Regions from separate parts of the Homo sapiens genome. Here region 2 is linked to region 1. The links come from fine-mapping of genetic effects on plasma protein levels. Region 1 holds a variant in brackets. A gene starts in the other region. All regions are shown on their forward strands. Region 1 overlaps CAPN2 (calpain 2). Region 2 holds the start of DTX3 (deltex E3 ubiquitin ligase 3).

The links. PIP is the chance, under the fine-mapping model, that this variant and not a neighbour inherited with it causes the effect. Protein levels are from antibody-based Olink assays in UK Biobank. Linkage for the fine-mapping came from a reference panel and not from the study's own genotypes, which makes the PIPs less certain.
Region 2: DTX3 starts here. The variant in region 1 is fine-mapped to the plasma level of the DTX3 protein (UK Biobank, PIP above 0.99).

The regions. Positions count from the first base shown.
Region 1 is chr1:223,750,502-223,759,165 of GRCh38, forward strand. It overlaps CAPN2 (calpain 2), which reads left to right. Exons shown (of 21, transcript NM_001748.5): 7 at 389-474; 8 at 1,496-1,570; 9 at 2,295-2,455; 10 at 4,979-5,148; 11 at 6,868-6,879. Among named protein-coding and RNA genes, the nearest start is that of CAPN2, 42 kb to the left of the region's middle. RefSeq lists a silencer at 746-1,040 and an enhancer at 1,744-2,943. The variant C/T (reference allele first, on the strand shown) is at 2,432.
Region 2 is chr12:57,604,502-57,609,499 of GRCh38, forward strand. DTX3 (deltex E3 ubiquitin ligase 3) reads left to right here and starts at 323. Exons shown (of 7, transcript NM_178502.4): 1 at 323-357; 2 at 1,070-1,230; 3 at 1,689-1,751; 4 at 1,942-2,017; 5 at 2,364-3,112; 6 at 4,019-4,236; 7 at 4,576-4,998. The coding sequence starts at 2,017. The coding sequence ends at 4,651. RefSeq lists enhancers at 1-204, 205-717.

The DNA.
Region 1 (8,664 bases):
CAATCCAGATTCACTCACTGCATGTGCCTGTTATCACCAGTGATCTTTCAACAAATGGTAAAGCTTCTCTGAGCTCCTTTACCAAAAGCGCATCCTGTCAGTTAAGCTGAAGTTCAGAGATGAAGCACCAACAGCCCCATCCTCGAGAGCCGGATCCTGGGAGCTTTAAATCTCATTTTCCAAAGCTAGGCAGCAGTGAGAGGTCTGGGTGCCAAGCCCCCTCTAGCTCTTGTGATCCTCCCTCATACATGGACTCAACCCCCAAATCCTCCCCACCGTCCTCAGCCCCATACCTCCTGGCTCATGCGGAAGGGGGTTGGAGGCCCAAGCCTTCATAGCCCTGACTTGAACTCAACCTCTTACTCCTCCCTTTTATCTAATCCTGCAGGTTGAAAGTAACGGAAGCCTACAGAAACTGATCCGCATCCGAAATCCCTGGGGAGAAGTGGAGTGGACAGGGCGGTGGAATGACAAGTGAGGAGGGCGCAGGCCTCGGGGCCCCAGGCGGGGGTGCATTGTGCTGGGAGGCTCTGGGAAGAGGGCGAGAGAAGAAGACATGTGCATTATTCTGAGAAATATAGCCAGGAGAGCCCAGGCCACGTGGACAGGGACCCGTGGACAGGGGCCCCTCAAAGGGTCTTTTAACCAGGACACTCCTCCAGCAGCCTGAGTGCCTTCTTCCAGGCCCCAAGCTGCTCGTGTGAAGTTCATTCCTGCCACTGCCTCCAGGTTCACCCCTTCCCTAGCTCAAATCCACCCTTCTATGGGGCTTTCAGGGAAAAAAATACACCCCACCTTCCCCCAGGCACTTCTATTACAGGGATGTGAACTTTGTACCAAAGGCCAGAGAAACATCCCTCTGTTGATTTCCAGGGCTTACTGGTAGGCATGTTGAACCCTCAACTATTTGGGGTAAACACTTGTTTGTACATCTGCTGTGGCAACCTCAGCCTACTTGCTCTGCCTCAGGTTGGAGAGGTGGGCAGTACAGAGGCCTGTGTGTAATTCCAGCCAAAGCTCAGGCAGTGGTTAGTTTACCCTGTGCACTGCCCCTGTGTACAGGGCCAGGTCCTTCTGCTCCGTGGACAGAGAGACACCTGCTGAGGCTTCCCAGGCCTCAGCCGGAGGCTCCTCATCAGATCTTCAGTTGTCTCTAAAAGAGCTGCCAGGCCCATCTCAATTGGGCAACTGCTCTGAGCTACTCCATCTCCCTCTAATGAACTATGTTCATTTTCTGGACTCTTCCTTGCCACTGTCTTCCAGCACAACTCACCCGCTCACTTTGCTCCCTGGTTTGCATCTGTATAGTGTTCTATACTCTTTAAAGTGCTGTAAGAGTATTAAAATGCAGCTGTTAGCCAGATGTGGGCTACTTTCCCCCTTTCTGGAGCCTGAGCCCTCAGAGGTGAGAGCAGATGTCCCTCTTCCTCAACTCTGGGGCCTTTGGGGAGAAATCATCGTACACTAACGCCTCTCTCTTTACTTTGTTTTCCAGCTGCCCAAGCTGGAACACTATAGACCCAGAGGAGAGGGAAAGGCTGACCAGACGGCATGAAGATGGAGAATTCTGGTAAGATTAGTGGAGGCTTCAGGGAAAGCTCTGTCTGCCCCAATGTTCTTTACTAGAAAACTGCTAATTAGAAAGAGTGTCGGCCAAAGTGAGTTTACCATGTCGAGGACACAAGCGTGTGGGATCCTGGTTTTGTTATTTTAAGTTCACTATAAGAGCCTGAATAAAGAAATTCTTAAGCCCCTTCAACGGTCCATCTTGACAATGGGGTTTATAAGCTGAGCAGCTTCAGAAAAAGGCTAAGAGGAATTCCTTTGGTAATGTTCAGATCCCAGGAAACAAGGGAAAGATGGGGCCTTTCTCCCCCAGGTTCCGGAGACTCATCCCAGCCCCTTAAGAAACTGGTCCCTTAGTGAGCAGCAATGGACCCACATGTCTGTGTGTCTGCGCCACTCTATAACCACCTGCACCTGGACACAACATGCTCTTTATCAAATGGGGCCCATATATTGTCACATTTGATGGGCACGGCTCCCATTTTTGCAGGTGAGAGTTCTGAGCTTCAGAGAAGTTTAAGTAACCTGCTCAAAGTCACCCAGCTAGAAAGTTGCAGCGCCAGGACTGGAATCTGGGCCTTCTGATTCTGAACCTGGTGCCCATCCACTCAGTTCTAATGAGCTGCTCTGCCTGGCTTTGGGTGGCTCCTGGTCTGGTGTTGGTGGAAAGTCAAGGCTTACCAGTGTGTCTTCTTATCACCTGTGATGATTGTCTCTGCTTTTGCCAGGATGTCTTTCAGTGACTTCCTGAGGCACTATTCCCGCCTGGAGATCTGTAACCTGACCCCAGACACTCTCACCAGCGATACCTACAAGAAGTGGAAACTCACCAAAATGGATGGGAACTGGAGGCGGGGCTCCACCG[C/T]GGGAGGTTGCAGGAACTACCCGAGTAAGGGCTGTTGCATATAAGGGCTGTTGCAATGCGGGGCCACCAAAGGCCAAAGCTCCCCTTACCCCACCCTGTGTACCACACCCCAGCCTAGCAGCCCCAGGAGGCAGCTCCTGCTCACTGGAACCCTCTCTGTCTTCTTTCTCCCTGAGCCTTTTCTTTTCCCTGAGCCTTTTCTCCCCGAGCTCTCTTTCTCAATCCCTTACCTCCTGCCCTACCCAGGACAAACCCAAGAGCCACTGTTTCTGTGATGTCCTCTCCAGGCCCTAGATTCCCCAGCGCCCATCATGACCTTCAGCCTGACCTTCCGCCATGCTCACGGAAGCAGTGCTCAATCCCACTTCACGGCCATGAGCTGCTCTATGCACCCCACACCCAGGCAGCCGAGCCTACAAGGGAACCTTGTCCCGGCACCCAGGGAGCCCTCCACATATCAGGCCCTGTTTGTTGCCCCATACTCACTTCAATCAGCAAATGTTGACTGGGCGCTGCCCAGATGGGGTGAAGATTTCTCCTCTGGTCCAGCCTTTGTTGAGCCCCTTGATTCTTCTGCCTTCATGGCTTAGTCCGTCAGCAGTTGTCTGAACATGATGACATCTGCCAATTATGGGGCACACCTTCAGTGCTTGGAACTATCCTAAGTGTTTTGTACACAGGGTGAGGATCCATAATCTGAAAATGTGAAATCTGAAATGCTCCAAAATCCAAAACTTTTTCAGCCCCAACATGATACCACAGGTGGAAAATTCGACACTTGACCTCAGGTGACAGGTCGCAGTCAAAACACAGTCAAAACTTTGTTTCATGCACAAAATTATTTTAAATATGCTATAGAATTACCTTCAGCCTATGTGTATAAATTATATATGAAACAGAAATGAGTTTTGTCATTAGACTTGAGTTCCATCCCTAAGATATGTTATGTATATACAAATATTCCAAAATCCAAAAAAATCCAAAATAGGAAACACTTCTGGCCCCAGGAATTTCAGATAAGGGATATTCAGCCTGCATAACATTCTATCTAACCTTCCCAACAAACTTCTGAGGCAGGCACTTTCTTATCACCTCCATCTCTAAGATGAGGAAACTGAGGCTTGGAGAGGCTAGTGACTTGCTGAAGGCCACAGAGCGTGCTGGGATTTGAACCCAGGCCCCCTGACTGAGGAGTCACTGTGTAAGTACAGTGGCAGCAGATCATGGTCACATAGTGATTCTCTGTGACAGATGAGGAAGCTGAGCCTCTAAGTCGCATACCAGGGCCACAGAGCAAGTAGTCAGACTGCGGCTAGCTGGCCTACAGTTCTGGGGCTCGGACTCCTTCACCTCAAGTATGCAGCCACCAAGTGGCAGTCCCAGAGGCGCTGGGAAGGCCCTCTGCCCCCCACAAGGGACCCCTCCTACCCACTAGATCAGGAGTCGGAAAACTCCCTCTAAAGGGTCAGATAGTAAATAATTTTGGCTTTGTGGGCCACTCAGTCTCTATAACAACAACTCTATTGCTATAACCCAAAGGCAGCCATACTTAAGCGAATGGCCGTGGCTACGTTCCAATAAAACGTTATTTACAAAAACAGGCAGCGGCCTTCGGAGCCATAGCTGCCAACCCCTACACAAGATGGTGCCTGTAATTTCACAGTTAGGGTTTTATCCCATTAGGTATGGAAAGGCAATTAGCATAATTCCCCTTAAACATGAATGAATCTTAGATTTTTTAAATAAATAGGTTTTGGAAGTAAAGAGGGCAGAGACATCAGGAGCAGGGCAAGGGAATAGGCCTGAGAGGACAAGGGACGCAGAACAAGAAAGAGTCTGGAATTATACACAGGATGTTCTTGGCCTCCGGGCTCACCGAGGGGGCGGCGACCGGCAAGTGCAGGGAGCAGATCCCGGAGTCCCCCAGGCCAGCCGAGCCCCGCCCCAGGCTCCCCATCAGAGCCCAGTGAAGAGAAGGTACCATGAGGGGAAGCCACAGCTCTAACCACCCTGCGTTCCAGAGTGACAGACCAGTCCCCAAGACAAGCCAGCCTGGAGCCAGAGAGAGAACTGCAAGAGAAAGTTTCTAATTTAGGTTCCTGTTAGATTCAGACAAGTGCAGGTCATCCTCTCTCCACAGCTACCGTCACCCGTCTCCAGCCTAACAAAGCCTGCAGTCCACACTCCAACCCTGGTGTCTCCCACCTCCTAGCCTCTCCCAACATCGCCTGCCGTCTCTGACCATCTTCTGCCATCCTCTGCCATCTCCCACCATCTCCCACTGTCTCCCACAGCCTCCCACCGCCTCTTGCCAACTCCCACCATCTCCCGCCATTTTCTGACATCTCCCGCTGTCTCCCACCATCTTCTGCCATACTCTGCCATCTCCCACCATCCCCCACCACCTCTTACCATCTCCCACCACCTCCCACCATCTCCCTTTATCTCCATCCCTCTCAGAAGCCTCCAAGCCTGAGACCAGGGCCACCCCCCACCCCCATGCATTCCTGCTCAGGGCTGGGCTCCTCTGCCCCTTTCTGGCTGCAGACACATTCTGGATGAACCCTCAGTACCTGATCAAGCTGGAGGAGGAGGATGAGGACGAGGAGGATGGGGAGAGCGGCTGCACCTTCCTGGTGGGGCTCATTCAGAAGCACCGACGGCGGCAGAGGAAGATGGGCGAGGACATGCACACCATCGGCTTTGGCATCTATGAGGTGCAGAGCGCAGGGGCTCCTGCCCTCCCTTCCCCATGTGTTCATCTCAGCCCCTGCATGGAAAGCTGACCCCAGAGGCAGAACTGGGGATGGGATCCCAGACCGGGAGCTTGGCCAAGGAAAAACAAAACTACCAGCCTGGCCAGGCTCAGGAGTAGCCCCCGTAGGGAGGCCCCTGCAGTGGCTCTGGGTTGTGGGGCCTTCTAAGCCCTTCACGGGCCCCCCACAGCCAGCCTGCAGGGAGTTCCACTCTCAAATGGCCTCCACATCCCTTCTCACATCCTCCAGGCCTGGCATTCTGGTCAGCCTACCCATCTTCAAAGAACAGAATATACTGGGCCACATCAGGCAATACTGTGAGGGCAGGACTGAGTCCATGGGTGCAGCTGCTCAGAGCTCGGCAAAGTCATTGGCCTGGATGGTGGAGAGCTTGGGGACAGGGGAACATTGGTCATGATGCTCCCCCCAGGGCTCTGATGGCTGGAGCCCAGATCCCTACACAGACTCCTGCTGTATGCGTGTTTTCCTTTCACTCTGAGCCACAGCCAGAGGGCAGCCGCATTGCAGTCTCCTCTCCGCCCTCAGGCTGGGGCTGGGGCACTGAGAACTCACCCAACACGCTGGGCCCCTGGGCTCTCCCCACTCCCTTCTGCAAAACAAGAAAGAGCTTTCGTGGGCTGCAGGTAGCCATGCGAGGAGAGGGATGAAAGGAAGGCTTTAGGGCACTGACTGGGGATGCATTTCGGTTTGATGGGCTGGAGCTGGCTCCTCCCGGCTCCCAAAGCCCATCTCTTTTCTCTGACCCATGTCTGCTGAGGTCCTTCAGCAGCCTGAAAAATGGCCCTGGCAGGGACCTGTTTACACCATGGAAAGTGGCAAATAGTACAAATCAGAGCTTCCACCCTCTCCCAAGAGCCAGTTTCCCAGCACACCCCTGGGAGAATCCAGACGAGGTGTCAGGAGAGGAGGCTCTGTGCTCACCACTGGCAACGTTGCCACCCATGGAACACTGACTTCTACCTGCTCACCCACCTGAGAAAGGCAGCTGGGCAAATACCATCAGTTGTAAAAATGCACATAGGCCTAAACCCCTCCGTCTCTGAAACAGGAGCTGAGGACTTCGGATCTGGGACAGAATCGATCCAAGGACAATGCAAATGGAATTGTGATACACAGCTTCCCTCCCACCGGCTTATGGGCTTGGAAATGCAGCCACGGGCTTTCAGAGTTGGGACGGACCTTGGGGATCACTGGGTCCTATTTTTGAGACAAGAAAACTGAGGCCAGAGAGGAGAGGGGACTTGCTCAAGGAAATGCAGACCGGACCACTGGACCTGGCTGACAGAGGCCGGCACTGCTGGCTCCTAGCCCCAGGTGTATTTCACCTCGCCTGCTGCCTCCTCCAACAGGGCCCGCCTGGCCCTCTTTCCCTGCGTGGGAGGCCGATATGGGCTTTGCCACCTTAGACAAGTCTCTTCACATCTCCATGCCTGAGATTTATACTCTAAGTTAGGAAGGGAGGTGAGGGCTTATCAACATAAGAGGATTTTCTTCAGTGTTGGAGAGGCTTTGAGTTCCTTGGAAAACAGTTACTCGGTTGAATTAGTTGATATTGCTAATGCTACAGAGAAAACGGGGGCAGCGGAAGAGAAGAGCACAGTGATGCATTTTCTTACACTGCTTTTCCGGCATCTGAATTGCATCTCCTTTATTTTGCAGGTTCCAGAGGAGGTACGTCTGGCCCATGTCCCGGGGTGCTCAGGTCACCAAAAAAGCGAGAGGCTTAGACTGCTGGAGCTCAGGGAGCGTCGTGAAGCCCGGGCAGGGGCTGGTGGTCATGAAGGATGAGTCCTGGCCACCCCTGGGGCCCTGCTGAAGTTGCCCAGGCTCTAGATCCCACTGGTCTAAGCTCTGGGCAAGGTTTCTGGAAAGTCCTTGTGGGACCCGCTGCCTCCCTGTGACCTGGCAGAGCCCATACAGGGTTTGGTTCTGGGCAGAAAATCCATGATCCTGAGACTGCAGGAGGCTTTTCACAAAGTTCTTTGTCACTCTTAGGAGAAGACTGAGTCAGGGAAAAGGTGAACCCTGCAGACTGTACTAGAAGACAACGCGGGAGCACAGAGGAGACCAGGACCCAATTCCCAGGCTGTGTGACCTTGGACACGTTACAGCTCCTCTCTGCATTTCAGGGTTTTGTTTTTTTTTTTTTTGATTTTTGGTTTGTTTGTTTGTTTTTTGTCTCGCTCTTTCACCCAGGATGAAGTGCAGTGGCATGATCTCGACTCACTGCAACCTCTACCTCCTGGGTTCAAGTGATTCTCCTGCTTCAGCCTCCCCAGTAGCTGGGACTACAGGCACGCACCAGGATGCCAGGCCAATTTTTGTATTTTTAGTAGAGACGGGGTTTCACCATGGTGGCCAGGCTGGTCTTGAACTCCTGACCTCAGGTGATCCACCCCCTTCAGCCTCCCAAAGTGCTAGGATTACAGGTGTAGCCACCGTGCCTGGCTGCATTTCAGTTTATTTTTCAGTAAAACTGGTCAACCATCCACCTCACTGCACTACCGTGGAATGACTTAAATTTTGCGAGAGCATTTGGGCCCACAGTCACCGCTTGCTGAAGCAGATGGGATGCCTGGTCCAAGGTCACGATTATTAAAGTAGACACACGGGGCACTTTGACCCACCTGTAGTACATTTCTTTCACAGCAAGGCAGTGCAACCGGTAGCACATCGGGCTCTTTTAGATGCTGCTCCAGCCTTGGTCCGGTGGATCATGCTTGGTTTAGAAGCTGGGTTGTCTTTCTCCTGCCCCCAGTCCTGTCTTTGCTTTTATAGTGCATCATACACCACGTAGAACCGAGCCAGGTTCCTGCCATGTGGACGCTGTTCCTGCCTGAGAGTCTCTTAGAGGAAGGCTGGGAACACTGTGGAAAGACTGGGCATCTCTGCAGGCGGAGCTGAATGGATGTGAAACCCCTGTGGGCATGTGCTTCCGAGTTCCTCAGCAGGCATTTGTGTTTTTTGGTAGAAAGTTTGCTTTTTGTTTTTTTTTTTTTTAAGACAAGGTCTCATTCTGTCACCCAGGCTAGAGTACAGTGGTGTGATCATAGCTCACTGCCGTCCTTGAACTCTCAGACTCACGTGAGCCTCCTACCTCAGCCTCCTGAGTAGCTGAGACTACAGGCGCTTGCCGCCACCCCTGGCTAATATTTTTATTTTTTGCAGAGACAGGGGTCTCACTACATTGCCCAGGCTGGTCTCAAACTCCTGGCCTCGAGCAATCCTCTCACAGCCTCCCAAAGTGCTGGTATTACAGGCGTGAGCCACCACACCTAACAAAAGTTTGCTTTTTATCTAAAATGACCCAGGCATTGTCACTGTACTGCTATTTTTTTAAAAAAATTTTGTTGTTTTGTTGTTGTTGTCGTCGTTATATAGATGAGGGCTTCCTGTGTTGCCCAGGCTGGTTTCTGACGCCTGGCCTCGCCTCCTTATACACCAGGACAGCAGGAC
Region 2 (4,998 bases), not on the chromosome of region 1:
AAAAGGGAGAGTGCTCCGCCGGGAGCGGGGAGCGAGTAGGGTGGCGTCTCCAGGGATTTAACCTCCTACCCTCAGTTCCATGACGCCACCCCCTCCCTCCAAAGACTGGGACAGCGCCTCCATTTTTGTTTTGGGGAGGAAGGGCAGGGGCTTGCGGATAGAAGGGGGTCAAAGGAACGGTGATTATCACCTGTGAGGGGAAAGGGGGTGCTGTCCTCCCTCCTTCCCTTTTCCTCAGCCTGCACCCCCTGCAATCCCCCACCTTTCGGGGTCTCCCCCTCCTTGTTGCTAAGGCCCGGACCGTCATCCCAGCAACAGCCTCAGTCATGTGACCGGCAATGGCGGCGCTGACGAGAGGTAGGTGAGCCCGGCGCCCCCCACACCCACCGCGCGCCCCCCGGGCCCCGCTCGCACCCCTCACGCGCCCCCCGCTCCCCCGGCGCCCCCTCCTCCACCTCCCCTCCCCGCGCGCGGCTCCGGGCTCCCCGCTCCGTGCCCGGCCGATCATCTTTCTAGCACCCTCCAGCCTTGGCCTCCATTCGGGGGTTCTGAGGGCTGCGATCGGGCCGACATGCACCCCCACCCGGCGGTGGGGATCCGGGGGCTTTGGCTACTGAGGGATGTGGGGAGTTGGTTCCGGGTCGGGTCTTGGAGGAGGCCGTGGGGGGAGGGCGGGAGCTGCTTCAGTGGATGCCCCCAGGGACCCTTGCCCATCCGGGCTGTGCCTCCCTCTGGCCTCTGTCTGGAGGGAGAGACTGGTTCCTTGTCCGGCCTGGGTTGCCACAGAGGAATCACAGACCCACCCTAAACTGGGGCCCCGCCTCCCTTTTCTGTGCCAGCAGGACTTGGACCTAGGACACCTAGGTCCTGGGTCCCCCGTGATGGGGAGAGAAGTGTTGCATCGCGGATAGACTGTATGGGCTGAGACTCTAGGGTTCCATTTTCACTTATGAATCTCGAGGTGCATCTGGCCTTGGGGGACGATGATGGAGGCATGAAGGGACAGCTGCTCCTTCTTGGATCAGTCAATAAATGGAGGTCACACTAATGGCCCTTCTTTCTGTTTGAGCTGCATTTGGAAGTGTTGTGGAGACAGCCCCGTAGCCCAATGCGACCAGACTCAGGGAAAACATCAGGCCCCTCCAGCTGAGCCCTTGTGTGAGCCCCGCCCCTCCCTAAATGCCAGACTTGGGAGCTGACAGACAGCACTGCCTGTGCTGGGTTTAAAAGGTGACAATGAGAACTTTGTTATTGCAGGGGCTGCTGCCACTTTGTTCACATCCTTAACAGACTTCAGCAGAAGGGACTGAGTTAGCTCTCAAGGAAGGCTCCCTGGCAATAGGGGCTGAATTATTTGGCAATGTGGAGCAGGCGAGGAGTTGGGGAGCATAGGAAATATTCCGGTCCATGTGATCTGAGGGAGGTGGCAAGAAGACCTCCACCTGTGTGGGCGTTTTCTTTCCTGACTTCTCTTATGTGTGCCCTAGGCTTTCTTGGGGGCCTCAGAGCTGGGGAAGAAAGGAGGAAGGTTAGCATGTTGAAGTTCCTTCTTGAGCAACTTGGGGAGAAGCTGATAATGGAATTCTGCAGAGAAGAGAGGAGATGGAAGGGGAGTTTTTATTTCTGGGTTGGCTGAGGGGAATGGTAACATTTGCCATCATAACTTTTTACCCTTCCCCCACTCCCAGTCCTGGTCAGCTGAGTGGAAATAGAAGGATTTCTGCTGCCATCATCTTCCATGGGCTTTCCAGGTATCTCCCCCGCAAGGGATCCTCAATTTTCACCCTTAAACTGGTTTCCTTCATTCCATGTTCCAAGTAATGCCATTCTTAGTAACCTATACCCAGGTTTCTGTCTCTGTTCCATGGGCTGCTGGGTTGGGGGCCATGGGAATTGGGAGAAGGGGTTTCTCACTTTCCTTCCATTTTTCCGCCCTACCAGGTCACACGACCTACAAGTAGGGAGCAGGGAAAGAAGAGTGAGCCTGCATGCCAATTCTAAGCTCTTCAGGATCAAAGTAAGCAAAAAGGAGGGGCAAAGAGTCTCCCTCCCCTTTAAACAGCCCATTTTTCCCCAAGAGGTGGGAGGGGCAAGTTGTTTCTATGATCTGGGAGAAATGACAGGAGAAACAAGACTGATACTTGGCTTAGATGATAATATAGCTCTGGAAACTTTTTTGCTCTTCAGTGGGTTTTGGGTTTGGAAGATAAGGGGAGACAGAATATGAATTTGGGTGAAGGGTTGGGGATTAGGCTTTGAGAAAACAGAGGTAATAGAGGGTTTGGAAGGAACCTGAAGTAGGAGGCACTGATACTTGTCAAATGGGGACCCCCCACCCTGAGTCCCTTTCACCCTGGGGGCAGTGTCGTTCGTCCTGTCCAGAATGGCAGCCTGTGGAGGCACCTGCAAGAACAAAGTGACTGTGTCCAAGCCCGTGTGGGACTTCCTGAGCAAAGAGACCCCAGCCCGGCTGGCCCGGCTTCGGGAGGAGCACCGTGTGTCCATCCTCATAGATGGCGAGACTTCTGACATCTATGTTCTCCAGCTTTCCCCACAGGGTCCTCCCCCGGCCCCTCCAAATGGGCTCTACCTAGCCCGGAAGGCTCTCAAGGGGCTGCTAAAAGAGGCAGAGAAAGAGCTGAAGAAAGCTCAGAGGCAGGGGGAGCTGATGGGCTGCCTGGCTCTGGGGGGTGGAGGGGAGCACCCTGAGATGCACCGCGCAGGCCCACCCCCTCTCCGAGCAGCCCCACTTCTGCCCCCAGGAGCTCGGGGGCTCCCCCCTCCTCCTCCCCCCCTGCCCCCACCTCTTCCTCCTCGCCTTCGGGAGGAGGCAGAAGAGCAGGAGAGCACCTGCCCCATCTGTCTGGGGGAGATCCAGAATGCCAAGACATTGGAGAAGTGCCGGCATTCATTCTGCGAGGGCTGCATCACCCGGGCTCTGCAGGTGAAAAAGGCCTGCCCCATGTGCGGCCGCTTCTATGGGCAGCTGGTGGGCAACCAGCCCCAGAATGGGCGGATGCTGGTCTCTAAGGACGCCACCCTCCTACTGCCCAGCTATGAGAAGTACGGCACCATTGTCATCCAGTACGTCTTCCCGCCCGGTGTCCAGGGGGTAAGAAGACCATGGCCTGCCCTTACCCTTTGGCTTTCCCCAAGCTCTGACCTAGGAAAACCGGGTGAGGGTGAGTGTGCTTGTTAGATGTGAGACAGTCTTGCTGTCTTCCACTGTGCCCTCCTACTCAGTGCCCTGGACCTAGGAGGTCCCCGTGAGGCCCAGCCTTTCCATCCCTGTGATCCCAAGGCACACGTGAAAATCAGATATGAGCTAGGAAAAAAAAAAGCAAATCAGATATGAGAGGAAGGAATTGCATATTATTTCCTTGATGAACACAAATACTGTGCTGACATCTTGGCAGAGGTAAATTCTGTGGAGGTGGTGGCTTAGGGGAAGGGAGGCACAATAGGAAGGGATCTGACCAACCCAACAGAGCCAGGAGCATCACTCTGTAAAAACAGGAGTAGTCAAGGCCTATAGGTGTCTTCCTGCTGGACAAAGAGTAATGTGCAATTCTGGCTGCAGAGGGGTGAAGAAGCTGCACAGAAGAGTGATGGAAAATGGAACAAGTTAGACAGTGGCAGAAACATTAGGAGTATTTTCAGGTGAAGGGAAGGCTGAAAGATAGATTATTCTGTCTTCACATTTTTGCTGAGTTGTCTGGAGTGTAGGGACCAGCTAACTTCCATCACTTCTGAGAATCCATTTGTTGCTGAATGGAGACTTGAGGGATTGAGACAGCAGAAAAAATCTCTTAACACATAAGGATTATGCTCTGAAACAGGCTCTTGCTGCCGAGGCCGTATAATCTCTCCTTCTGTGGAAAGCTGTCAGCCTGTTGCTGCCCCGTTCGCATTAGCTGGGGGTGCTCAGACAGAGACTAGCCTGGATGACCCTCCTCTGGCATCTGGGCCTTAGGATGCCTGGCTGCTCACTGCCCACTCTGCTTCACCTTCCTCCCAGGCTGAACACCCAAACCCAGGAGTTCGGTATCCTGGCACCACACGGGTGGCCTACCTCCCGGACTGCCCTGAGGGCAACAAGGTGCTGACCCTGTTCCGCAAGGCGTTTGACCAGCGTCTCACCTTCACTATCGGCACGTCCATGACCACAGGGAGACCGAATGTCATCACCTGGAACGACATCCACCACAAGACCAGCTGCACAGGGGGACCCCAGCTGTGCGACCCCTCTTCATTTCCTTTCCCTTGGCTCCTCCCCTTTGTTCCATTTCCACTGAGGGACCCACCAACCCCTCGCTCACGGAGCCTCCTAACTGGAGAGAACCACTTCCAAACTGTTCAGCCATCTCAGTTTCTCCTACATTCAACCTGGTCCTGGTGTGCCCAGCTTAGCCTACAAAAATAAGCAGAACTGGGCTAAATTATCTTGGATTTGGAGGTGTCCTCCCTTAGGGGAGGTGGGGAGGTGTCTGAGCCACCTAGAATGAGGGTGAGCATGGGGATAATAGCAAGTTCAAACAGCTAACAACCCTCACCCTCATTTCTCTTTGCTCCCAGGTTTGGGTACCCAGACCCCACCTACCTGACCCGGGTGCAAGAGGAGCTGAGAGCGAAGGGTATCACAGATGACTGAAGGACATCGCCTTTGCCAAGGCCCCTGCTGTCTGCCTCTACTAGGACCCAGCAGAAGCCTCTTTCTCCTCTCTGCCCCCTGCCCCCCACACCACACCTGTAGGGGACCTGTCTGACTGGGAAGGGAGTTCCGAGAGGGAGGGGGCAATCCCTTCCCCCATCCCCCACTGGCCAAGTGTTTCAATGCAGTGTGAGCCACTCCCTTCTGGCAGAGGCCGACCTCCAAGGCTCTGTTCTCCCCTCCCCGTGTACATATACTCCCGGTTTCCCTGCCCCTCCATTGCCCTTGGCTTTTTCTGGTATGTGCTGTGCTCCACGACCAAGCCGAGAAAGGACCTAGGGTGGGGA